Linked DNA regions of Homo sapiens. The protein of the gene in region 5 purifies or fractionates together with the protein of the main gene of each other region. This does not show direct contact. Each region holds a gene or a part of one and is shown on either strand. Other genes may lie near its edges. The genes, in order: ARPC2, CAPZA2, ARPC1B, ARPC4, CTTN, AMOT and FMNL2.

The links.
Region 1: the proteins of CTTN (region 5) and ARPC2 purify together in Homo sapiens (affinity purification with mass spectrometry; 2 studies listed by BioGRID and IntAct, with this or other methods). This does not show direct contact.
Region 2: the proteins of CTTN (region 5) and CAPZA2 purify together in Homo sapiens (affinity purification with mass spectrometry; 2 studies listed by BioGRID and IntAct, with this or other methods). This does not show direct contact.
Region 3: the proteins of CTTN (region 5) and ARPC1B purify together in Homo sapiens (affinity purification with mass spectrometry; one large-scale study listed by BioGRID and IntAct). This does not show direct contact.
Region 4: the proteins of CTTN (region 5) and ARPC4 purify together in Homo sapiens (affinity purification with mass spectrometry; 2 studies listed by BioGRID and IntAct, with this or other methods). This does not show direct contact.
Region 6: the proteins of CTTN (region 5) and AMOT purify together in Homo sapiens (affinity purification with mass spectrometry; 2 studies listed by BioGRID and IntAct, with this or other methods). This does not show direct contact.
Region 7: the proteins of CTTN (region 5) and FMNL2 purify together in Homo sapiens (affinity purification with western blotting, with the first as the bait; one study listed by BioGRID). This does not show direct contact.

Annotation. Positions count from the first base shown.
Region 1 is NC_000002.12:218,234,189-218,237,688, forward strand, and holds part of ARPC2 (actin-related protein 2/3 complex subunit 2), read left to right. Parts: intron 1-163; coding exon 164-209; intron 210-3,500. UniProt on the Homo sapiens protein: Actin-binding component of the Arp2/3 complex, a multiprotein complex that mediates actin polymerization upon stimulation by nucleation-promoting factor (NPF).
Region 2 is NC_000007.14:116,900,587-116,904,086, forward strand, and holds part of CAPZA2 (F-actin-capping protein subunit alpha-2), read left to right. Parts: intron 1-2,731; exon of another isoform or gene 2,732-2,857; intron 2,858-3,500. UniProt on the Homo sapiens protein: F-actin-capping proteins bind in a Ca(2+)-independent manner to the fast growing ends of actin filaments (barbed end) thereby blocking the exchange of subunits at these ends.
Region 3 is NC_000007.14:99,384,730-99,388,229, forward strand, and holds part of ARPC1B (actin-related protein 2/3 complex subunit 1B), read left to right. Parts: intron 1-972; 5' UTR 973-985; coding exon 986-1,049; intron 1,050-1,955; coding exon 1,956-2,060; intron 2,061-3,309; coding exon 3,310-3,500. UniProt on the Homo sapiens protein: Component of the Arp2/3 complex, a multiprotein complex that mediates actin polymerization upon stimulation by nucleation-promoting factor (NPF).
Region 4 is NC_000003.12:9,805,342-9,807,601, forward strand, and holds the end of ARPC4 (actin-related protein 2/3 complex subunit 4), read left to right. Parts: intron 1-868; coding exon 869-874; 3' UTR 875-1,760; downstream 1,761-2,260. UniProt on the Homo sapiens protein: Actin-binding component of the Arp2/3 complex, a multiprotein complex that mediates actin polymerization upon stimulation by nucleation-promoting factor (NPF).
Region 5 is NC_000011.10:70,433,029-70,436,528, forward strand, and holds part of CTTN (src substrate cortactin), read left to right. Parts: intron 1-72; coding exon 73-250; intron 251-618; coding exon 619-690; intron 691-1,997; coding exon 1,998-2,134; 3' UTR 2,135-2,437; coding exon of another isoform or gene 2,438-2,716; 3' UTR 2,717-3,253; coding exon of another isoform or gene 3,254-3,380; 3' UTR 3,381-3,500.
Region 6 is NC_000023.11:112,820,332-112,823,831, reverse strand, and holds part of AMOT (angiomotin), read left to right. Parts: intron 1-643; 5' UTR 644-705; coding exon 706-1,577; intron 1,578-3,500.
Region 7 is NC_000002.12:152,628,674-152,632,173, forward strand, and holds part of FMNL2 (formin-like protein 2), read left to right. Parts: intron 1-982; coding exon 983-1,051; intron 1,052-1,151; coding exon 1,152-1,232; intron 1,233-3,334; coding exon 3,335-3,464; intron 3,465-3,500. UniProt on the Homo sapiens protein: Plays a role in the regulation of cell morphology and cytoskeletal organization. Required in the cortical actin filament dynamics.

The DNA.
Region 1 (3,500 bases), on a different chromosome or scaffold from region 5:
CTAAATCCACTTCCCCTCTGTCTCTACTTTCCCATCCACCAAATGAAAGTTAGGAAGAATGCCAACTTAGGAAGAGCTTGGCAAGTGCAGTACTTTAAAAATAATGAAATTATCATGGCCTTTGGATTAACGTATTTGGTTTTGTTTTGTTTTTATTTTCTAGTTATTAAAGAGGGTGTACGGGAGTTTCTTGGTAAATCCAGAATCAGGTATGTAGTCATGTGAGCAACTATGGAATGACATGGGAAGAGAGGTGTCCTTTTTATATTATGCTTTTTTTACCCAAAGGATTTCGTTTAAATATTATTACAAATATTTCTGCATGAGCCCATTCCTAATTTCAACTCCGTCCATAAAAATAGCTTTTAAGGGGCTTTGCTTTGTCCAATATGGAACACAGTAGAGGTACAAAATTGATGTGTGACATTTTTAACATTTACTTGATGGGGCCACATGACTCTTACTTAATCTTTCAGCCAGAGGGCCACATTTGTTTGTTCATGGTGATTAAAATGGCTTTGAAAAGAATGAGCAAACATTGATTCCCACCCTCGGCCCTTAGTAATTCTGCATACTACATATTTGGAGAAAGAAGAGGAATATTCACCACACTATTCTTGTGATTTCAAGTAATAAAAATCAGACCCTTTCTTAATCCAGTCTTCTAATAGGTTGTCTCAACATTCATGGCCAGAGGAATTGAAAGGCACCGTGTCATCCTTGAATAGAACAGCTATGTTATACTGCTTTAAAAAGGAGGTTTAAAGTGGAAAAACTGAACAGCCTTTTTACCCTGTGATTCAGTGGCATGTCTCAAATTCTGAGGCATTTAGCAGGACCCCAAAGTGAGAACCAGGTAGTAAGACCATTGGAACATAATATTTTTTACTCAACTATTACAACTTTGGTACCTTGATTAGAAAAGTCTTCTAAGAAGGAAGTTCTCTGTCACTCTTAACAGCAGTTACTTGTGCTAGCTTATTTCATCACCTCACCTATTTTTTCAGACAGTCTCATTCTGTTGCCCAGGCTGGAATGCAGTGGTACAGTCATAGCTCACTGCAGCCTCCTCCAAATCTTGGGCTCAAGCAATCCTCCCGCTTTAGCCTCTCCGGTAGCTGGGAACTACAGGCACATGCCACCATACCCAATTAATTTTTTTAATATTTTGTAGAAACAGAGTCTCACTGTCTGCTGCCCATACTGCCAAAACAGAGTAAGGAGGTCTCAAACTCCTAGCCTTGAGCAATCTACCCACCTCAGCCTCCGCCTCCCAGAGAGTTGGGATCACAGGCATGAGCCACCATACCCAGCACCTTTTTTTTTTTTAATCTCCAAATTGGCGGGATGAATGTGTCACAGAAATAAAAGCCAAGATAACACTGTAGGCTTTTGGCAAAATCAAGGTATTAAAAGAAAGAAACAAACAGATCTAGAACAGAAAAATCATGTCCAAAGTCTTGGGCATGCTTGTCACAGCCAACATCCTGACATGGAAAGTTTATGTTTCTGTCCCTGGGCCTCCTTCTACCTCCCACTAAATCATAGACATTGCCAGATTGCAGACCCTGTCTTCATAGAAGTGTGAAATGTAAAAGTGTGTGAAAGTAGTGTCTCAACCAGGTGCAGTGGCTCACACCTGTAATCCCAGCACTTTGGGGAGGCCAAGGTGAGTGAATTGCTTGAGCTCAGAAGTTCAGGACCAGCCTGGGCAGCATAATGAGATACCTGTCTCTATAAAAAATACAGAAATTAGCCAGGCATGGTGGCAGCCACCTGTAATACCAGGTACTCAGGTGGCTGAAGCACGAGAATCGCTTGAACCCAGGAGGCAGAGGTTGCAGTGAGCTGAGATTGCGCCACTGCCCTCTAGCCTAGGCGACAGAGCAAGATTCAGTCTCGAGAAAAAAAAAAAAAAGACCGTAGAGTCTCTCCTCCTCTTTTTTAATGGGTTTATCTAGGCACGTTTGGAAAACTCAGCAAGTTATACTAGATTTTTACTTCTCTTCATCCTCAGTATATTCTGTTCATCATGTTAGAAGCCTTACTTAAAGACAGACTTTACCTTAGCTATAGTTTTATTTGCTCTTATTTGGCTTCCTAAAACTAGCAAACCTCAGCTCTAAATCTTTTCTTTTTTAATCTAACCTTGTAATCTGTGTGCTTATTTGGTTTTCAAGTACCCAAAATAGAATGATGATTGATATTATTTAATACTGGAGTGCCTCTCCAGTATTAAATAAAATGTGCTAAGCATTATCTAGAGCAAAGATTTAGCCCATCCTCCCGAAGAGCCCATGCTCAACAAAAAACACAGACCTCAGCCGGGCGCGGTGGCTTATGCCTGTAATCCCAGCACTATCGGAGGCCAGGGCGGGCGGATCACCTGCATTCAGGAGTTCAAGACCAGCATGACCAACATGGAGAAACCCCGTCTCTACTAAAAGTACAAAATTAGCCAGGCCTGGTGGCGCATGCCTGTAATCCCAGCTGCCTAGGAGGCTGAGGCAGGAGAATCGCTTGAACCTGGGAGGCGGATGTTGTGGTGAGCCGAGATCATGCCATTGCACTCCAGCCTGGGCAATAAGAGTAAAACTCCATCTCAAAAAAAAAAAAATACAGATCTCAGGAATGCTTTTGGGAAAAAATGAAATAGTAATGAGGTTTCAGATACTTAGAAGTGTGAAAGCCATACAGTTCTGGTGAAGTTATTCCCGTCAGTTGCCTAGAATATAAAATGATCCTCAGTGATGTAGAAATATTCTTGCAAAAACATCTCTAGGCAGTTTGACACTTATTAATCATTTGATTCTATAATCAAGTGTTCCAGCCGGCTTCTGGGAATTCATAGTGGACATGCTGTAAAAAGGCAGGTCATCCAATGGTTTCAGTCCATGTTCTGCACCCGTATTGATGACCTGTCATGTTCCACACACTTTAAGTATTGAACATTCTTTTAATGCTCACAACATTCTCCCCTATCTCCGCACCCCCTGCCCTGCTCCTTTTTCTTTTTTTCTTTTTTTTTGAGACAGAATTTCACTCTTGTTGCTCAGGCTGGAGTGCCGTGGCGCGATCTCAGCTCATTACAACCTCCACCTCCCGGGTTCAAGCAATTCTCCTGCCTCAGCCTCCGGAGTACCTGGGACCACAGGCGTGTACCACCACACCCAGCTAATTTTGTATTTTTATTAGAGACGGGGTTTTGCCATATTGGCCAGGCAGGTCTCGAACTCCTGACCTCAGGTGATCCACCCACCTTGGCCTCCCAAAGTGCTGGGAATACAGGCTTGAGCCACTGTGCCCAGACCACCCTACCTGCCCCCCACCACCAATTTTTTTTTTTTTTTAACAGATGAGGAAATTAACAAGTCAGGCAATTTTTTTTGTTTTTGTTTTTTTTTTTTGGAGCTGGAGTCTCGCTCTGTTGTGCAGTGGTGCAATATCAGCTCGCTGTAACCTCCACCTCCTGGGTTCAAGCAATTCTCCTGCCTCAGCCT
Region 2 (3,500 bases), on a different chromosome or scaffold from region 5:
GAATAAGCTTCATCAAAAAAAGGCATACGATTATGAAGAAAATAGTGACGGTCTTCTCAAGCAACAAAAGCAAAAACTGACACATGGGATATAATTAAAGAGCTTCTGCACAGCAAAGGATACTATCAACAGAGTAAACAGACAACCTACAGAATGGGAGACAAATTTTGCAAATTATGCCTCTGACAAAGGTTTAAATCCAGCATCTATAAAGAACTTAAATTTAAAAGATAAAAACAAGCGCATTAAAAAGTGGGCAAAGGATATGAACAGACACTTTTCCAAAGCAGACATACTTGAGGCCAAACAAGCATATGAGAAAAAAGATCACCATCACTGATAATTAGAAAAATGCAAATCAGAACCACAATGAGATACCATTTCAAACCAATCAGAATGGCTATTATTAGAAAGTCAAAAAATAACAGATGCTGGTGAGGTTACGGAGCAAAAGGAATGCTTATACACTGTTGGTGGGAGTGTATATTCAACTATTATAGAAGACAGTGTGGCGATTCCTCAGAGATCTAAAAACGGAATTACCATTTGACCCAGCAATCCCATTACTGGTTATATACCCAAAGGAACAGAAATCATTCTATTATAAAGAAACATGCTCACATATGTTCATTACAGCACTATTCACAATAGCAAAGACGTGGAATCAATCTAAATATCAGTGATGATAGACTAGGTGAAGAAAATGTGGCATATATACACCATAGAATACTATGCAGCCGTGAAAAAGAACAAGCTTTATGTCCTTTGCAAGAACATGGATGGAGCTGAAGGCCATTATTCTTAGCAGACTAATAAAATATCTTAGCAGAAAATCAAATATCACATGTTCTCACTTATTAGTGGGAGATAATGATGAGAACACATGACACATAGAGGGGAACAAAACACACTGGGACCTATCAGAGGATGAAGGGTGGGAGGAGGGAGAGGATCAGGAAAAATAACTAATGGGTACTAGGCTTAATACCTGGGTGATGAAATAATCTGTGCAACACCTGCATGACACAAGTTTACCTATATAATAAACCTGCACATGTACCCCTGAACTGTTAAGAAAGAAAATAGTGATACTCTTCTTGAAACACATAAAACAGGATCTGACCAATGGAAAGGTGCTCTACATTCCATTCTTAGATAGAAAATTAAATTATTTTAAAAGTAATGTATGGATTTGATGAAATTTGAATTAGAATCCTGATCAGTTTTTTTTTAATTGGTCAATATTTTCATAAAGTTTATGTGGAAAAAAAAACATGCTTGAAATAACGAAGAAATGTGTGTGTGTGTGTGTGTGTGTGTGTGTGTATGTGTGTATATATATATATGTATATATTTATGAAAAAACCATTAAGCACAATGAGGGAGAATTGCCTTACCAGATAGTACAAGTTGTTTTACAGCCAATGTTAAGTCAATGTGGTGGTGTATGGAGTAGACAAAAAATCATTAGAGCAGCATGGAGAACCAGAATTTAGTCTCAGAATATATGAAAAATTTTATACAGATATTGGCATAACTGGTTTCTATAAGAAGAAAATTAAGTTGGACCTCTGTCACATACAGTATACAGAAATAGATTTCAGGTGGTTTTAAAATGTGAAAAGTGGCTAACATTTTAGAAGAAAATCTGAGTCTACATGTGCAATACAGGGCTAGGGAGACCATCTTAAATAACACTGGATACCCAGGAAGTATAAAAGATGGACATTTTACTATAAATGTTTTTAACTGTAGAATGAAGCCTATCTTAAAGAACTCTTATAAATTGATAAGAAAAAGACACCAGATAAAAATATTTTATTATATTTGCTCACAGAAGAGCAAATGACCCACAAATGTGAAAAGCCATACTTAGTTTTATCAGTAGTCAGTGGAATTAAAATGATATATTTTCTACCATCAGACTAAAAAAAGAGCTATAGTGCCTATCATTGGTGGTAATATGGATGGAAACATACTCTCATATATGTGTAGAAATTTGGATTGTCACAGGAGTATATATTAAAAATTATAATACCTGATGTCCCTACCACCACTGCTTGGGAATTTATTCAATAGAAATAAAAGGATCCAATGGAAATAAAAACATCAGTATGTTAAAATATATGTACAGCAATACTCATTTCACCTTTTTTGTTGTTGTTATTGAGTCAGGGTCCTGCTCTGTCACCCAGGCTGGAGTGCAGTGACACAATCACAGCTCGCTGCAGCCTCAATCTCCTGGGCTGAGTAGCTGGGACTACAGGCACATGCCACCACGACTGACTAATTTTAAAAAATTTTTTTGTAGAGATGAGGTCTTACTATGTTGCCCGGGCTGGTCTCAACCTCCTGAGCTGAAGCTATCCTGCCCCCTTGGCCTCCCAAAGCACTAGGATTACAGGCATGAGCTACCACACCCAGTCTTATTTCACCATTTTTAATGTGTTCCTCCTTTCCCCGAAAAAGGAAACAGCCCAGAAATAAAGAGATGGCACATCAGTAGTGGATTGGCAGACTAAATTATGTTATAATCACGTCATGGGACATTATGCAGCCATTTAAAAGAATGGTGAGAAATATATCACTTGACTTTGAGGGATTTCCATAGGATGTTTATATTGAAAGAAGCCAGATGCAGAGAAGAGTGTGTGTGTGTGTGTGTGTGTGTGTGTGTGTGTGTGTACGTACACACACACATTTTCATTGCATTCTTATAAAATAATGACCAGTCGCTTCTCGGCCTTTTGGCTAAGATCAAGTGTAGTAAAATAATGACCAAAAAATTCTGTGTGTATGCAAGTATAGACATGTGTATATCTTTATCTGTAAGATTTTATGACTATGAAAAAAAATTTAGAAAGGTATATCCTGTGTTGTTAGCATGATATATATCAGAGGGATGGATAAGTCCCGACATAGCTAAGGAGTCAAAGACTGGAAGAATTACAAGAGAAGGAAAAGGGGAAATTTTTTAAATAAAGCACAAAATATCAGATTATACATTATGCATTGTGGATGTATTATTTAAATTTATGGAAATGAAGTATGTTTTTAAATACTTGGAAGTCAATTAAAATCAGTTGTCAATGTAGTTTTTAAGAAGCAAGAAACAGATACGTCAAAGTAGGTAAGACTGTGGGCCCAGAGGCAAGGTGGGGGACACACCAAAGAGGATTTGCACCAGACCAAAGCCATTCAGGTAACCACCCTGATTGGAGGTTCTCACAAGTTCTGTAGTTTTGAGGAACTGGAGTCTGATACCAGACATTGTAAACTGTTAGAGTTCTCAAAGCAGAAAACCCACCAAACCCACTTGAACAGTGTTTTTAGAGGTTGCATTTTTTTTCACCAGTAGCTGGAAGTTATATTGGGAGAAAATCTGATCTGCACTGGATGAGAGTAATGTCATTGTCTGTATAGTCAACTCATTTGAAGTATTAATAGTTGTACCATATGGTTAAAATATATGCTTGGAGTAGGATTGTTTTATAGTTTTA
Region 3 (3,500 bases), on a different chromosome or scaffold from region 5:
CCCCTGCAGACCGGCCACCTCCCTTCTCCCCGTCTGAGCAGTGTGGGGGAAGACCAGGGCTCTGGGCACGGCAGGGCCAACTGCCATGTGCTGGACACCTTTCTAGGTGGTTTATGAGATTACTTCATTTCTTTTTTTTTTTTTTTTTTCTGAGATGAGTCTTGCTCTGTCACCCAGCCTCCTGAGTAGTGGGGATTACAGGCAGGTGCCACCACACCTGGCTAATTTTTTTTTTTTTTTTTTTTTTTTTTTTTGAGACGGAGTCTCACTCTGTCGCCCAGGCTGGAGTGCAGTGGTGCGATCTCGGCTTACTGCAAGCCCCGCCTCCCAAGTTCACGCCATTCTCCTGCCTCAGGCTGGGACTACAGGTGCCCGCCACCACACCCGACTAATTTTTTGTAGTTTTAGTAAAGACGGAGTTTCACCATGTTGGCCAGGCTGGTCTTGAACTCCTGGCCGCAAGTGATCCGCCTGCCTCGATCTCCCAAAGTGTTGGGATTACAGGCATGAGCCACCGGGCCTGGCCTGGATGACTTCATCTTCATCCCATCCTTAATGGGGCAGGGGAAGTTGGGTGGGGGGGGGGGGGTCGTCCATCCTATGAGGAAACCGAGGCACAGATGACAAGTGAGGGGCCTGTCCAGCTTGGAGTCCTAGCACCCCACCCCGCCCCAGGGAGCATCTCCCCTGTAGTACCGTCTCCTCCACCCTGTCCCTGGAGCCTCAGAGACATCCTGTGAAAGCTGCCCTTTTATAAGGAGGGAAACTGAGGCCCCAGGAGGGGAAGCAACATGTCAGGCCAGTTGGGAGCCAGGGCTGGCCCCTGCTGCTCCTCTCTGCAAACTGCTGCCCCTCTAAACTGAGGGGCCTCCCTGGTGTGAGGCCTGTGAGGATCATCTGGGGCCTGGTATGGGTGAAGTCAGGGGCAAGGTTGGGGCTGACGTGGATTCTCTCTTCCTCTCTCGGGCACAGGAGCCAAGCCGCCATGGCCTACCACAGCTTCCTGGTGGAGCCCATCAGCTGCCACGCCTGGAACAAGGACCGCACCCGTGAGTGCTTGCTGGGGGCCGGTGGGTGGCTGCTTCCACCTCCTGGGATGGGGACCAGCCAGAGCACACATGGGGACTCTGGAGCAGCCAGGCCCCCGGACCATGGGCTCCATGTGGCTGTCCCCTGGCCTCACCCCTGGGTCTTCCAGCTGACCAGGGGCCTCCTGGGTTAAAGTTTAAGGAGGGAATGGGCCAGTTGCGGTAGCTCATGCCTGTAATCCCGGCACTTTGGGAGGCTGAGGTGGGTGGATCACTTGAGGTCAGGAGTTCCAGACCAGCTTGGGCAACATGGTGAAACCCTGTCTCTACTAAAAATACAAAAATTACCTGGGCGTGGTGGTGGGTGTCTGTAATCCCAGCTACTCGGGGGGCTGAGGCACGAGAATTGCTTGAACCCAGGAGGCGGAGGTTGCAGTGAGTCGAGATTGCACCACTGCACTCCAGCCTGGGCAACAAAGCGAGACTCTGTCTCAAAAAAAAAAAAAGAGAGAAAGAAAGAAAGAAAAAGTGACCAAGAAAAAGCCTTTCGGAGGAGATGACATTTTGACATTTACCCAGAGACCCAGAGGGGGAGAGGAAGGGAACTGTGCCCCAGCTGGGGAGGGGCTGGCAGGTGCAGGGGCCCTGAGGTGTCAGCAGGAGCAGCGAAGGGTTCCTGGTTGGCCAGAGCAATAGGGTGGGGAGAGGTCCCAGGGTTCATTGCTGCGAGTAAAGGACAGCCAGTTCCAGGAGAAGACAGGGTGGCCTAGCAGGGCCTGAAGGACTTCAGGGGGCCCCTGCAAGGCAGAAGAGGAGAGACTGAGTCATGAAAGGTGAGGTGTTGTTGCCTAGGTGCACTGTGTAGTGTGTCCTGGCAGAGGGCAGTCATGGAGAGGGCCCCTCAATCTCCCTCCATCTCCCCTTCAGAGATTGCCATCTGCCCCAACAACCATGAGGTGCATATCTATGAAAAGAGCGGTGCCAAATGGACCAAGGTGCACGAGCTCAAGGAGCACAACGGGCAGGTGACAGGTATGTCAGGGTGGCTGGGACCACCGTCCTGAAAGGAGGTGGTGGGTTGGGGGGGTGGTGCAAGGCAGGGCATGGCCACTCATTGTGGAGCATCTGCCCACTCACCGTGAAACCCGGATTCAAACTGGCTTCAATTTTAAGGGGACTGTGTTGGCTCATGTTACCAAAAACTCACAGGGTTGAGGGCTTCAGGAGAGGCTTGATCCAGCAGCTCCACATGACCAAGAACCCATCTTTTCTGCCTCTTGGCTTTGCCCTCCAGCATGTTTGCTGATAGCATGGAGGGCTCTGACACTCCCTCATAAGCTCTAGGAGTGCCCCCTGGTGTCACTCTAAATAAGCACTGGATCTCAGTAAAAAGTGCTTGCTGGGCCGGGTGCAGTGGCTCATGCCTGTAATCCCAGCACTTCAGGAGGCCAAGGCGAGTGGATCGCTTGAGGTCAGGAGTTCGAGACCATCCTGGCCAACATGACTAAATGTTGAAAAATACAGAAATTAGCCGGGTGTGGTGGCACGCACCTGTAGTCCCAGATACTCTGGAGGCTGAGGCAGAAGAATCGCTTGAACCCAGGAGGCGGAGGTTGAAGTGAGCTGAGATTGCACCACTGCACTCCAGCCTGGATGGCAGAGCGAGACTGTGTCGCAATAAAAACAAAGAAAGAAAGAGGCCGGGTGCGGTGGCTTGCGCCTGTACTCCCAGCACTTTGGGAGGCGGAGGCGGGCGGATCACCTGAGGTCAGGAGTTCAAGACCAGCCTGGTCAACATGGTGAAACCTCATCTCTACTAAAATACAAAAATTAGCCAGGCATGATGGCGGGTGCCTGTAATCCCAGCTACTTGGGAGGCTGATATGTGAGAATTGCTTGAACCCGGAAGATGGTGGTTCCAGTGAGCTGAGATCGTGCCAGTGCACTCCAGCTTGGGCGGCTGAGCGAGACTCTGTCTCAAAAAAAAAAAAAAAAAAAAAAGATTGGTGGTACACACCTGTAGTCCCGGCTACTCAGGAGGCTGAGGCACGAGGATTGCTTGAACCTGGGAGGCAGAGGCTGCAGTGAGCTGAGATCATGCCACTGCACTCCAGCCTGGGTGACAGAGCGAGACTCTGTTTCAAAAAAAAAAAAAAGTGCCTGCTGGGCAGATACAGCTTCCACCTGGATGGTGGCCTTTCAGCCTCTCCCATGTGGCCACCATACAGCCACCTCTGCCTGAGTGTCATCAGCCTCCTGTGTTCCCTCCATCCCCCCACAGGCATCGACTGGGCCCCCGAGAGTAACCGTATTGTGACCTGCGGCACAGACCGCAACGCCTACGTGTGGACGCTGAAGGGCCGCACATGGAAGCCCACGCTGGTCATCCTGCGGATCAACCGGGCTGCCCGCTGCGTGCGCTGGGCCCCCAACGAGAACAAGTTTGCTGTGGGCAGCGGCTCTCGTGTGATC
Region 4 (2,260 bases), on a different chromosome or scaffold from region 5:
CCCTCAGCCAGTAAGAGGAGGAACCAGAATGTGGAGCTGGGTTTTCGGACTCAGAGGTCTAAGAAAGTACCATAGCCTTTGTCAAGGGTCACAAATTCAGGTGCATCCAAAGGTCGGGTAGCTATGGAGTGGGCTGAGTATGGAGTGGGCAGGGTGAGGAGCTGCTGAGCGCATGCCTCATGTGCAGGGGCTGGCTCCCACACAGCTCCAGGCCATTGAACCCCCAAATTTGGATTTGTATATGGCATCTTCCATGTTTTCAAGGTTGGCAACTAATTCATATTGTTTTAAACACCATGTGGGCCATGCAGTGCTCATCTTTGGGCTAGTTTCAGGCATGGGCCATTGGTTCACAACCTTTGGTCTCTAAAATGTGCAGGGCTGTCCTAGGCAGCATGGGGGACCCTTGAGGGCAGAAAACATTTCAAGGGCCTGGCTTGGTTGGAGGTTCATCCAGAGCTTGACACAAAAGTACCAGAACCTGGGTCCTTTTCCACTTGGCCCTCTGAGTCCCCAGGCCCCTTGCATGAGAGCCCCCATGCCTAAAGAAAGCAACCTCAGTTCACCAGGCAGGACGCTGGCAGGGCTTTCTAGCAGCCTCCATGCCAGGGCACAAGGGAGCTGTGGAGAAGCTCTCATGGCTCTTAATTTTTCTGCCTTATCTAGTGCTAGGCTTAGGGCCGGTGCCCATAGGTCACTTCTGAAAGCTGGCTGAATTAGAGCATGACCACAAGGTGTCCTGGGACCCAACTCTGCCCCTCACAGATATGAGCACAGTGGCAGCTCTCAGGTTCATGCACCTCCTTAGAGCAGTGCCACCAGGATGCAATAATAACCACCATGCACTGCCTCTTGGTTCTCTTGACAGTTTTAAACCATCTGGCTGGATCTCGTGGCCTTCCCCCTCAGACTACCCATGTCTCCACGAAGGCGTCCTGGAGTCACTCCCCGAGCAGCGCGGCGGCGGCAGGGAGTTGGGTTGGGGTGGGCATTTGATGCGGGAGGTGGGTGGTGTGCTTGCTAGCTGGGCAAGAAAGCAGCAGTGGACCTGCCCCAAGGCCACACGTGCCTGGTCAGGCTGGCTTCTGATGTTCAGTCCCCTGGGCCGGGACAGATTTTTTTTAACGTCTTGAAACTTAAACTCTGTGCTTGTAGGATACTGTAACCTTTTTGTCTTTTTTTTTTTTTTTTTTTTTAAACCTCCACCTCCAGTGGCTGTGACTGGTCCCAGTGATTATACGTTATTGGTTGCTGTGGGTCTGGGCGGGCCTGGAGCCAGAAGGCGACTTATTTTTTCTCTCCTATGCCACCCCAGGTGGGGAGGGAGGGAGGTTTCAGACTCCAGTTTCTCCCTTGCCCTTTTATTCCCAAGCCTCCTTGGCCCCAGTATAAGTGTTGGGAACTCTCTGCCAGCTTCCTGAGTTCTGCCTAAAGATGGCCCCCCAGCACTGGTTGGGGACAAGGGCCAAATTGGTGACCACCAGTCATGCCTAGGACCTGGGGCCCAAAAGCCGGGCAACCTCTGGCTACAGGGGCCATTGGGTGCCCTCCCAGTTGAGAGGGGCCGCTGTTTCGCCTTGTCCGTCAGTGCCAGTGCCTGTGCCAGAGGTGGCGAGGTGAGTCCTCCAGAGCTTCCTGGCCGGGCCCTCCTCCTGCCTGTTCTGGCTCCTCTGCTCCCACGCTAGCTGTCCCTTTTCTGATTCTGGTGGATCCTCCCTCCCCTAATTAAAGTCTCTTTTTGCCCCTTTGGGGCTGCATGAGGTCTATGCTGTGTGTGTGTGTGAAAGGAGGGGAGGTGGGGCTTCTTTTCCCTGAGACCAGATGGCTGGTAATTGTGCCTGGAGCTCCCCACTGGGTGCAGTCTCATGATTGGTCCTGCCATTATTCCTGCCAGGGGTCCCAACCCAGAGACTCCATTCATTGCAGTCCAGGCACCATTAATTTCTGAAACTGCTCTGTCTGCCTATACAGAGCTTTGGTGCTTTTCACATAAGGAACTTACTTGGGCTAAAAAGTAACCTCAGAGAAACAGTGCTCCCATTTGGTGGATAAGGAAACTGAGGTTCCAAACATGAGATGTAATAGCTTGCCCCAAATCTAGCCAGTGAGCAAGAGAGTAGACTTTTGCCTGTGCCAAAACAGTAATCACCATCCACAAGTGGCTATTTAAATTTTAATTATTACAATTAAATAAAGTTTAAAATCCAGTTCCCCAGTCCCACTGGCAACTTAACAGCTACCAGTGACTGTACCATATATA
Region 5 (3,500 bases):
TGTGGCAGTACAGCTACTGCTCTCTAGAAGCCAGCATGGGCCCCGTGCCATGTGCGTGTGACCCTTCCCCAGGATGCGGCTTCCTTCAAGGCAGAGCTGAGCTACAGAGGCCCTGTGAGTGGGACGGAGCCGGAGCCCGTGTACAGCATGGAGGCCGCTGACTACCGAGAGGCCAGCAGCCAGCAGGGCCTGGCCTATGCCACAGAGGCTGTCTATGAAAGCGCAGAGGCCCCGGGCCACTATCCCGCAGGTACTGGGGCCCCACGCTGCAGCGCCCTGCCCAGGGCAGGGAGCTCCCGGGACATCCTGCTCGACCTGTGGCGTCGTTGCGAGGAGCGTGGGTTTCCCACTGACACGCCTTTGCTTGCTTGCTATAGGGTCTTCTTGTCCCTGGAGGGAAGTGCTCTAGGCACATTTGGGGCATCGGCTCCTGTGCTGGGTCCCAGGAAGATCCCCATTGTGCTGGGGACGGGTGGGCAGGGGCAGAGGAAGGGAGGGTTTCAGCTGCCGCCCTGTGTCCTTGAGACAAAATCTTAGGAAGTGTCGTCTAAAACTTGAGAAGGCTGGGAACCTGTGTGGGACTTTGTATTGTTCAGCTCTGTCATGGCTTTCTTTTAGAGGACAGCACCTACGATGAGTACGAGAACGATCTGGGGATCACAGCCGTCGCCCTGTACGACTACCAGGCTGGTGAGCGGCCTGCAAAAGCACTTGGAGGGGAGACCCAGGCAGCTGCGCCTGCCTCTGCTTGTTTTCTGAGAATTCACTTCTCTAGCGTTGTTAGTTTTAGAAGTAATTTATGTTGAGATAATTTCAGAGATATAGAAAAGTTGCAGGTATAGTGCCAAGAACTCCCATGTTCCCTACCCGGATTCCATCTCTGCACACACACGCACACACCCCCTGTTATCTTTAGTATTCTCTGAACCCTTGGAGAGCTGCAGGGGTGCTGCCACCCCCAAAGACTCCAGCGTGTTTCCCAAGATCAAAGATGCTGTCCCACAGGGACACCCCACCCTCCAGGTGAGGGGGCCGCACAGATGCCTTGATGTTCGAGACCCCATTCCTGCCTGTCCTGCCCCGGCCGCCAGCTCCCGTGTGGCCTGCACGTTCCCCTGAGTTCCCTTTGCGGCCTTGGCAGTTTAAGAGCAGCCTCAGCTCCTGGGCTGGCCTCAGCCGCCCGCCCCGTGTTCCCTCAGGGCCAGGCTGAGCTGTGCTCTGGTGGCGGTGAGGTCTTGGAGACCATGCGGTGGGGCTCTCTGCTGGGCCGCATAGCATCCACTTGTCCCTCTGTCTCAGCCACCACCTGGTCCACAAAGTCACCACCACCCCTCTGCAGTTGACAAGCATCTTACGGGTGGCGTGGGATTCCCCTCAGAACCCCCGGCCTCTGCCTCTTGAGTGCTTCCCGTTTGCAACTTTCCATCAGCGCGGAAGCTGGCATTCTACCATAAGTGAGCGCTGGCCGTCCCCGTTCAGTGCCTTTTGCACACGTGCATTTGCGTACACGCATGTGGGTGTGTCTGTGGCATCTCGGCACCTGTGCGTGGATTCTCATCACCGTGGCTTTTGCCCTCCATTCCCATTTCAGCCATCACCTCGGGCTTCTCTCCGGGTGTCCCCTGGCTGTCCTTCCACTGCGGCCTCCGCAGCCCATCTCCCCACCCCCTCCACAGACACGTCTGCCAGAGAGAGGGGAAGGGAGGGCAGGCGGGGCTGGAGTTATGTGGTGGAAACCTGCTCCTGAGGAAGGGGTCCGGGTGGGGTTGGTGCTTGTGTGAAGGGCTCTGTGCCTCTTTGTACTCTCTCGGTTCATGTTCACAAATCCTGGCCTTGGTGGCATGGGAGAGGCAGCAGGAGCCTCCGCGGTGGTCCGCATCTCTGCAGGGGGCATCTCTGAGCAGGCTGCCTGGGAGCTTGCTCTGGGTTGTGCTTTTTTTCTGGCAGACCAGGAAACGCTTGCACTTCAGCATCTTTCTCTGTGTTCTCTTCCCCAGCGGGCGATGATGAGATCTCATTTGACCCTGATGACATCATCACCAACATCGAGATGATTGACGACGGCTGGTGGCGCGGGGTGTGCAAGGGCCGGTACGGGCTCTTCCCAGCCAACTATGTGGAGCTGCGGCAGTAGGGCCCCCAGCCCCCCCCCGGAGCTGCGCCCTGGATCCTCACACTACAGATCAGGCCTTCTTTGGTTCTTGGGTGGTTTTGGGTTTTTTCTGTTTTTTTTTTTTTTTTTTTTTTTTTGAAGGTGGGGAGGGGAATATACACATTGCTTTTATATTTAATACTTTTGCTGATGCTTTTGAAAATGTTTATGCCACAGAATTTGCTAATATATTGTAATCACATTCCTTAGGAGGACTTTGGTAATTGGTTTTATGCATTGATGGTTTTTTTTTTCTTTTTTGCCAAATTGACTGTCACGCGGCAGCTTCAGGGAGCTCGCATTCTCTTGTGTTCGTGTTGCCCTCGTGCCCATCAAGTGCAGTCGGGACCTCCCAGGACAAGCACGAGGCCTCAGGTCGGCCCTGTGGCGGGTAGGCAGGAAGGACTGTCCCAGACGAGGGGCTTCCTCTAGAGTCTCACTGCTGGGGAGGAGAGGACTGGGCCTGATGGAAGTTAACCCGGAGCTAAGTCACCCAGAGCACAGGAGCTGCCATGTCAGATGGGAAATCTGCCTATGTCATACCGTGACAGCCCGCAGGATCAGGTGACTTCTAGCAGAGACCCTGGTTTTTTTCCTGTGCCCACTCCGGCTTGTCCTCATCTCTACCCATCCCCTGATGCCCAGGTCACCGGGAGGGCTGCTGGGAGCCTCTCCTGTCCCCGCCGGGCAGTGTCACTGAGTCCTTGAAATCCTCCCCTGCCCCGCGGGTCTCTGGATTGGGACGCACAGTGCAGTTGAGGTCTGCGTCGGGCTTGGCTTTTCACAAAGGCTGATGTCTTAACTGTCACCCATATGGTCCCTGGGCCACCGGGCAGCCTGGGGCGGTGTGTGTGCCATGTCACAGCATGGCCTCTCGGCCTTGGGAAGGAAGGCAGTGCCTGCTCTGCTGTGAGCCGCCAGGAACCCTCCTCCTGTCAATGGGGGTGTAGTATTTTTGCCAAAATATCATGTTCAATTTCAGTAGTTTGATCAGTTGAAGGCTAGAAGTGTGAAGTGCAGATGAGTGTGTGTTCTTCCCCAAGGTCCCCCCACAGCTCCAGGACACCGCTGTCCTGGCATTTGTGGCCACTCACTTTGTAGGAAACTCATCTCCTTCCTGAGGAGCCGGGAGGCTGGACCAGTCCCGTCGTGCAGTCAGGTGGGCGGTGTGTCTTTCCAGAAGGTCACGTGGAAATGTCTCGGGACTTGGGTCCCGGAGTGCCCGTGAAGCGTGTTTTTGCTCCTGAGGTGCATTTTCTCATCATCCTTGCTTTACCACAATGAGCAATGAGGTCGGGTTTTATATGCAACTTATTGTATCTGAATTCCTGTAGCACACCTCATAGGT
Region 6 (3,500 bases), on a different chromosome or scaffold from region 5:
AAGTCCTTCTCTTATTAAGCCAAGGAGCATCCAAAATGGAGACTATGAAAATGATTTTTTAAAAAGATGTTTCAGAGCCTTATGAGATCAGAGAAAAAGATTTGCATCGAGGCAGGGATCATTACTGTCTGGTGCAAGCCAAGCTCTCTTCACCTTTTATTTATTTGAGTCTTTATTTTGCATTTTGTAGCTGCCTTCATATGCTGAGCTGCTTTACAAATCCTGTTATGGGGTAACTTTCCCCACTGTCCTGCCCCCACCTCCACAGCCATAAGATTTGGGTTTTTGCTTTAAATAGAATACAGAGAGATGAAGCCTGTGAATATGGACCTTGAAAAGTTACCCCCTTTGATTACCCTAGTTGACTGTTCCAGGTTTCTCAAGCATTCTTAGGAGTTAAGTCCAGATTGAATATTTAACTCATGCTAAAAGTGAAAGAGAAAACCTAGAGCTCTTATGCCTCCATGTTCTTCATCATATCAGTGCTAGGGCCTGGAATCCCCAACAATCTATTAATTTTAGAGTCAATTCTCTACTTTGTTTCTGCAATCGAATCCTCACCCTCCAATATCCATTTTCTTTCCCTTTAGAGGACTGATTTATCCATCAACTGGGTGTTAAGCTTCCTGTTTCCCCTTCCCAGGTCAAGGGCAGCCCAGGTGCCCAATTTCTCTCTCTCTTCACAAGGCACCACCAGCAATAGAGATGAGAAATTCTGAAGAACAGCCAAGTGGAGGGACCACGGTATTGCAGCGTTTGCTACAAGAGCAGCTTCGCTATGGCAATCCTAGTGAGAATCGCAGCCTGCTTGCCATACACCAGCAAGCCACAGGGAATGGCCCTCCTTTCCCCAGTGGCAGTGGGAACCCGGGCCCTCAGAGTGATGTGTTGAGTCCCCAAGACCACCACCAACAGCTTGTGGCTCATGCTGCTCGACAAGAACCCCAGGGGCAGGAAATCCAGTCAGAAAACCTCATCATGGAGAAGCAGCTGTCTCCTCGAATGCAAAATAATGAAGAACTCCCGACCTATGAAGAAGCCAAGGTCCAGTCCCAGTACTTTCGGGGCCAACAGCATGCCAGTGTTGGAGCTGCCTTCTATGTCACTGGAGTCACCAACCAGAAGATGAGGACTGAGGGACGCCCATCAGTTCAGCGGCTCAATCCTGGAAAGATGCACCAAGATGAGGGACTCAGAGACCTTAAGCAAGGGCATGTCCGTTCCTTGAGTGAACGACTAATGCAGATGTCACTGGCCACCAGTGGAGTTAAGGCCCATCCACCTGTTACCAGTGCTCCCCTCTCCCCACCACAACCCAATGACCTCTACAAGAATCCCACAAGTTCCAGTGAATTCTACAAGGCCCAAGGGCCACTTCCTAACCAGCATAGCCTGAAGGGCATGGAACACCGAGGCCCCCCACCAGAATATCCCTTCAAGGGCATGCCACCCCAATCTGTAGTGTGCAAGCCCCAAGAGCCAGGGCACTTCTATAGTGAGCATCGCCTGAACCAGCCAGGGAGAACAGAGGGGCAACTGATGAGGTATCAGCATCCCCCTGAGTATGGAGCAGCCAGGTAAGAGAGTTCTGTTTCTGTCATTTCCTGACCTCATCCCCAACCAGCTTCTGCTGTGTGTTGGGAATCTTAGGGAAGGAACGGGCAGGTGTTTGATATAACAAACTCTGCAATGCATGACAGGCCTCTGGCTTCGTGAATTGCCTGCCAACCCGAATTTGTATCCTCTTTAGCCATAATTAGCACTGTATTAACAATCCCTTAGCTTTGTAGGTTGAGCATGGCCTCAACTGCCTAGTGGACGAACAGGAGCAAAAGTCTTGTTTTCAGCAGCTATTTGCTGTCCTCTCTCCTAGGATGTTGAAGGGGTCTGTGTTTCTCATAAGCCCTCCTTGAGAGGTAGAAGCAAATTACCTTGCACTTTAATTAGTCTGGAACATCCTATCACTTGCACATATTCCCCTCCATGAAGCTTTCATCATTTATTTTTGCAAACAAATCTGTGTATTTCTTGTCAGTTACCATTTTTCCATAGAATTACCATTATTCTTTTGGACTAAACAAACACCCAGATGTTATGGTGGGGGAGCTATGTATGTATGTAGGTTCAGAATGTTACTTGCCTTATGCTTGCAGTTTATGAAATCTGGACTGTTGTATCTTTTTTTTGTAGAGAATTTATTAGTTGCCTGTCACATTTTTAAACCTCTGAGTTAAATTCCCATCACATCATATAGAAATTTTGGTCAGATGCTAAAATACAGAAGGAAAAATATTACCATTTCTGTCTTATATATTTAGTTGTTCCTATATATACTTCTTAATTATTCAGAGGTCCATTGTCCCACTGCTATATTCACTAGACCTTATGATTCTATGATTCTGTTCATTGTTCCTGTTGTTAGTATTTGGGCCATGTCTCTGATCAGTAGTATTTCCACATATAGGGCAGGAGAAAAGGTTTAAACCATGGGGACCGATGGTGGCATTTAAGTGTGGTATCCTGCCTCATGGCCATGAGTAATGATGGGTGACCATCAGGTTTGAAGTGCTTGGTCCTAGGCTGGCCTTCATTTATATGCGGCTCACAGACTAGGTCTGTGATGTCCTTTGATGTCTACCTCTTTGTCTCCTGTACCCTACTTGCTCATTTTGGAAAAAACCTTCTGGCTTGAAGTTCATTGAGTGACTCAGGAGAGAAGGCAGTCATGGGGTGGAGTAGGGTGAAAGTGAGAGAAGGCACCTAGCATTTCCTGGTATTTCTTTTTTTTCCCCTGCAGGTCCTGTTTTTGTAGCCAGAGGCAATTCACTTTGGACTCCACCTCTAACTTTGCCAGTTTAGGATTTTTTTTTTTTTTTCCCTCTTAACCCAGGTTGATTTCCTAACCCTTTTCAACCTCCTCTGTGCAGCTTTCAAAGGGCAGGAGCCTATGTTCTGATCAGTGTCTTGGAACAGGAAATGGGGTAACCAACAAGGCTACTCAGGTTTAAAAGAGATCAAGAACCAGATTCCCATCTGACCAATGAAACAGAAGACCCAGGGAGGGGTTGGTCTGTTCAAGACTGCCTCACTTAGTGGAAACCCATTCAAGCCAGCAAAATATCAATGAAGCTGGGGGTTTTTATTTTGCTTTTCCCATCAGTATGGAAGAGTCTGTTGATGGGCTGATGTCTGTTGCCTTGTGGGAGGGGAGTGTGTTGGCTGGGGTGTGGAGCAGAAGCCACAGCCCCACTCAGCACACAGCCCGCCTTCCCAGGAAAGCTATTTTCAGAACTCATTCACCAGTATTGTTTGTGATCTGAAATGACTCCCACAGTGTTTGAAGCTAGATGGAAAATTATCTGCCCTTTGATCTGCCTAAATAAATAATGAGGAGCCCAAAGAGGTTTTCTTTTTTTTTCCTTTTCTTCCCATCCTGATTAAACCACCGGAGAAATTTAGCTGCATGTATTTTACAGGAAGATACATATTTTTTATCCTCC
Region 7 (3,500 bases), on a different chromosome or scaffold from region 5:
CAACCATCTTTTCCACATTATGTATGCAAAGTAAATTTGAAAAATGGGGAATGTTCATATTCCATATTGCCATTCTTCCGAAAGAATGCCATTTTTTGTGTCTACAGATGTTCTCTAGATTTCAAAAGGACAGGGGACAAAGAAACTTGGTTCTTTTCTCAAACTTGGTTCCTCTCTGAAGATACTAGTCTTCTGGCAGTGTTGGCAAGACTGAAAATAAGACTTTCATTTCTAAAAATGTTGCCTCATCTTTAGTGAGCAGACTTACAAGCTTTTGCTGAAAGCTTTATATTTACCATAAGAGTTTTCTTTCTTGGAAGTTTGTTATAATAAACTGTGGTGATATAGACATAATAGCCAACCATCTCTCATTCCCTTGTGTTAATCTGGTGGAGATTTATGAATATCATAAACTTCAGTTCTCTCCCAATTCTGTTTCTAAATAGACTTTGTTACTGATTATAGTAGTCAGTTCTTTCCCAATTCTGTTTCTAGATAAATTTGTTGGTTTCTGCTTATAGTAGTATGTCTGTTGAAAACATGTTCTGAGAACTTCTGGAGGGTGTTATATTCCCCTCCCTTTTTTTTCATTTTTGATGCCTCCTTCATTGATTTAAAAATATTAATTGTATGACATGATTAGAGGTGGTAGGCAGGAAATTGAGTTCTACCAGAAGCAGCTGTGGACTCTTAACTCTGAGTCTTAGTGGTTGTAGATTGGTTACAGATTTTGTGATAAGCAAGTTCCTATGTTACTTGCTATTGTGAACAGTTTCAGTAAAGATCGTGCATGTAACAATATTACCTGAGACCTAGCAAGACAATTAAATTTGTTATACTTAGAAAAAGTAGACTCTCACCATGAAGCCTGTATGCTCTAAATGCAGGCCTGTTTTCTTCTGTCTTAATATTTACTTGCCAATTAGTTTCCCATTTTTAACATGTCTTTTTTCCCCTTTTTCTTTCTTTGATTGGAATCTAGCAACTACATGCGATTATAGCAGCATCTGTCTCTATAAAGTCGTCCCAAAAACTCAAGAAAATTCTGGAGGCAAGTGCAGTTTTTCTTGTAGGTATGAAGGACTACTTCAGCTGCGTTCAGTGCCTGATGTGCTGTACTGATGGGCTTCTGTTTTCACCTTCTTTTGCAGATCATCTTAGCCCTTGGAAACTACATGAATAGCAGTAAAAGAGGAGCAGTTTATGGATTTAAACTTCAGAGTTTAGATCTGGTGAGTGGACTAAAAGAAATTTGAGAGCTGTTTGAAGGACAGATGGCTGGCAGAGATGAAGTTAGGGTGGTGGAGGATGTTTTGATGAATATTTTCTGCTATGGGAGGATCAACTGGTACTAATTTTCTGGAACACCATTTGACAGAGAGCACATAGAACCTATAATTACTCATACCCTTTGACTCAGTATTTCCATTTCTAGGAATTTTTTCTCAAGTGTCTGAATTTTGAATCCTGTATTTTATTTATAATTGCAAATTAACAATCTAAAGGTCTAACTGTGGGAATGATTAAATGTGCTGTAACACTAGTTAATACAGTGAACTATTATTCTTCCACCGTTAGCATACTGATGAAGAGTGTCCCAAGAAAGATTTGTGTTTAGAAAAGAAAGCAGGGTATGCTTTGCATGTACAGTTGAATCTCAGCTAAGTAAACTATGTGGGGAGAAAGACTGAATGGAAATAGGTTAAAATATTAGCAGAGGTTGGATGGAATCAGGAAATTTTTTCAAACTGCTTTTTGTAAGTACTTTTCTATATTTTCTTAAATTTTTGTTGTTGTTGTTGCATGCAGGGTGCTCTAATTTTCAGAGTCACCTAACTAATGTGAATAAGACTAGAGAAAATCCTCCGTGGACTCCCTCCAGACTGTGCAGGCCTAACGTGATTGTCACATGAGAAGGCTGGGCAGTGGGTTGAGTCCCCCGACCAGGGAGCTAGTTATTTAATATGGAGTGTCTAGTCAGTCACAGTTCTGGCCTCCAGCAGATCATGATCAGTTAAGCATGTCTGTTTCAGGTCTTCACAGGCTAGGAAATAAGGGAGGGCCTAAGCTAAATGTAAAAACTGGAGCATAGGAGCCCTGCTGTGTAGGAGGCACCTGCATGCACCTGCTGGCTGTACATCCCCATTTCTCCTCTGGCTTTTTACTTTGAAGAGCACTAAAATTAGAGCCGTCCTGCTTTTAAGGCAAGGAAGGTGGGATAGCAGATGCAGGGCTGGGAGAGTTCATGTAATCAGTGTCCCCCTTATCCATGGGGGCTGTGATCCAAGACCCCCAGTGGATGCCTGAAACCTCAGATAGTACTGAATCCTATATATACACTGTTTTTTTTCTAGAGATGCATATCTGTTATAAAGTTGAATTTATAAATTAGGCACAGTGAGAGATTCACAATAACTAAAAAATAAAATAGGCCAGGCCTGGTGGCTCACACCTGTAATCCCAGCACTTTGGGAGGCTGAGGCGGGAGGATCACCTGAGGTCAGGAGTTTGAGAGCAGCCTGGCCAACATGGCGAAACCCTGTCTCTACTAAAAATAGGAAAATTAGCTGGGCTAATTTTTGGGTCACAGGCACCTGTAATCCCAGCTACTCGGGAGGCTGAGGCAGGAGAATCGCTTGAACGCAGGAGGTGGAGTTTGTAGTGAGCCAAGATTGTGCCACTGCACTCCACCCTGGGCGACAGAACGAGACTCCATCTCAAAAAAAAAAAAAAAAAAAAAAATAGAGCAGTTAAATAAAACACGTTACTTGAACACAAACACTGCAATAGGCGGCAGTTAACCTGATAACCCAGATGGCTACTAAGTGATTAATGGCAGGTAATGATTACAGCGTGGATCCACTTGACAAAGGGGTGATTCTCGGTCTAGGGTGGATGGGAATGGCACGTGCGAGGTTTTATCATGCTGCTCAGAGTGGTGCGCAATTCAAATCTGATGAATTGTTTATTTCTGGAATTTTCCACTTAGTATTTTTGGATACCTGAAACCTGTGGGTTTCCTGAAACCATGGGAAGTAAACCTGTGGGTAAATAGGAACTACTGTAGAGGAAAGCTGCGAATCATTCTTAGGTGCTTAGAGTCATCCCTATAGTTAAGCATGTGCCCTGGTTGGAAAGTCCTTGAGCCAGTTAAGCATCAATGGACTGGTTCACTAAGGAACAAATGGAATCCTGACCCTCCTCTGGGAATGCTCCAGCCTGTTGGGCGACTGTTACTCAGTTAATGACTCTGGGTGGGAAATCGTCACCTGAGGGGTAAGTGTCTTGTTACCCTTTACTCTTGTACCTAACCCACGTTCCCTTTTGTTTTCAGCTCTTAGATACAAAGTCAACAGACAGAAAGCAAACACTGTTGCACTATATATCCAATGTGGTGAAAGAAAAATATCACCAAGTGTCCCTGTTTTATAATGAGCTTCATTATGTGGAAAAAGCTGCTGCAGGTACTTGATTTCAGCTATTACCGTTCGTCTTGGGTA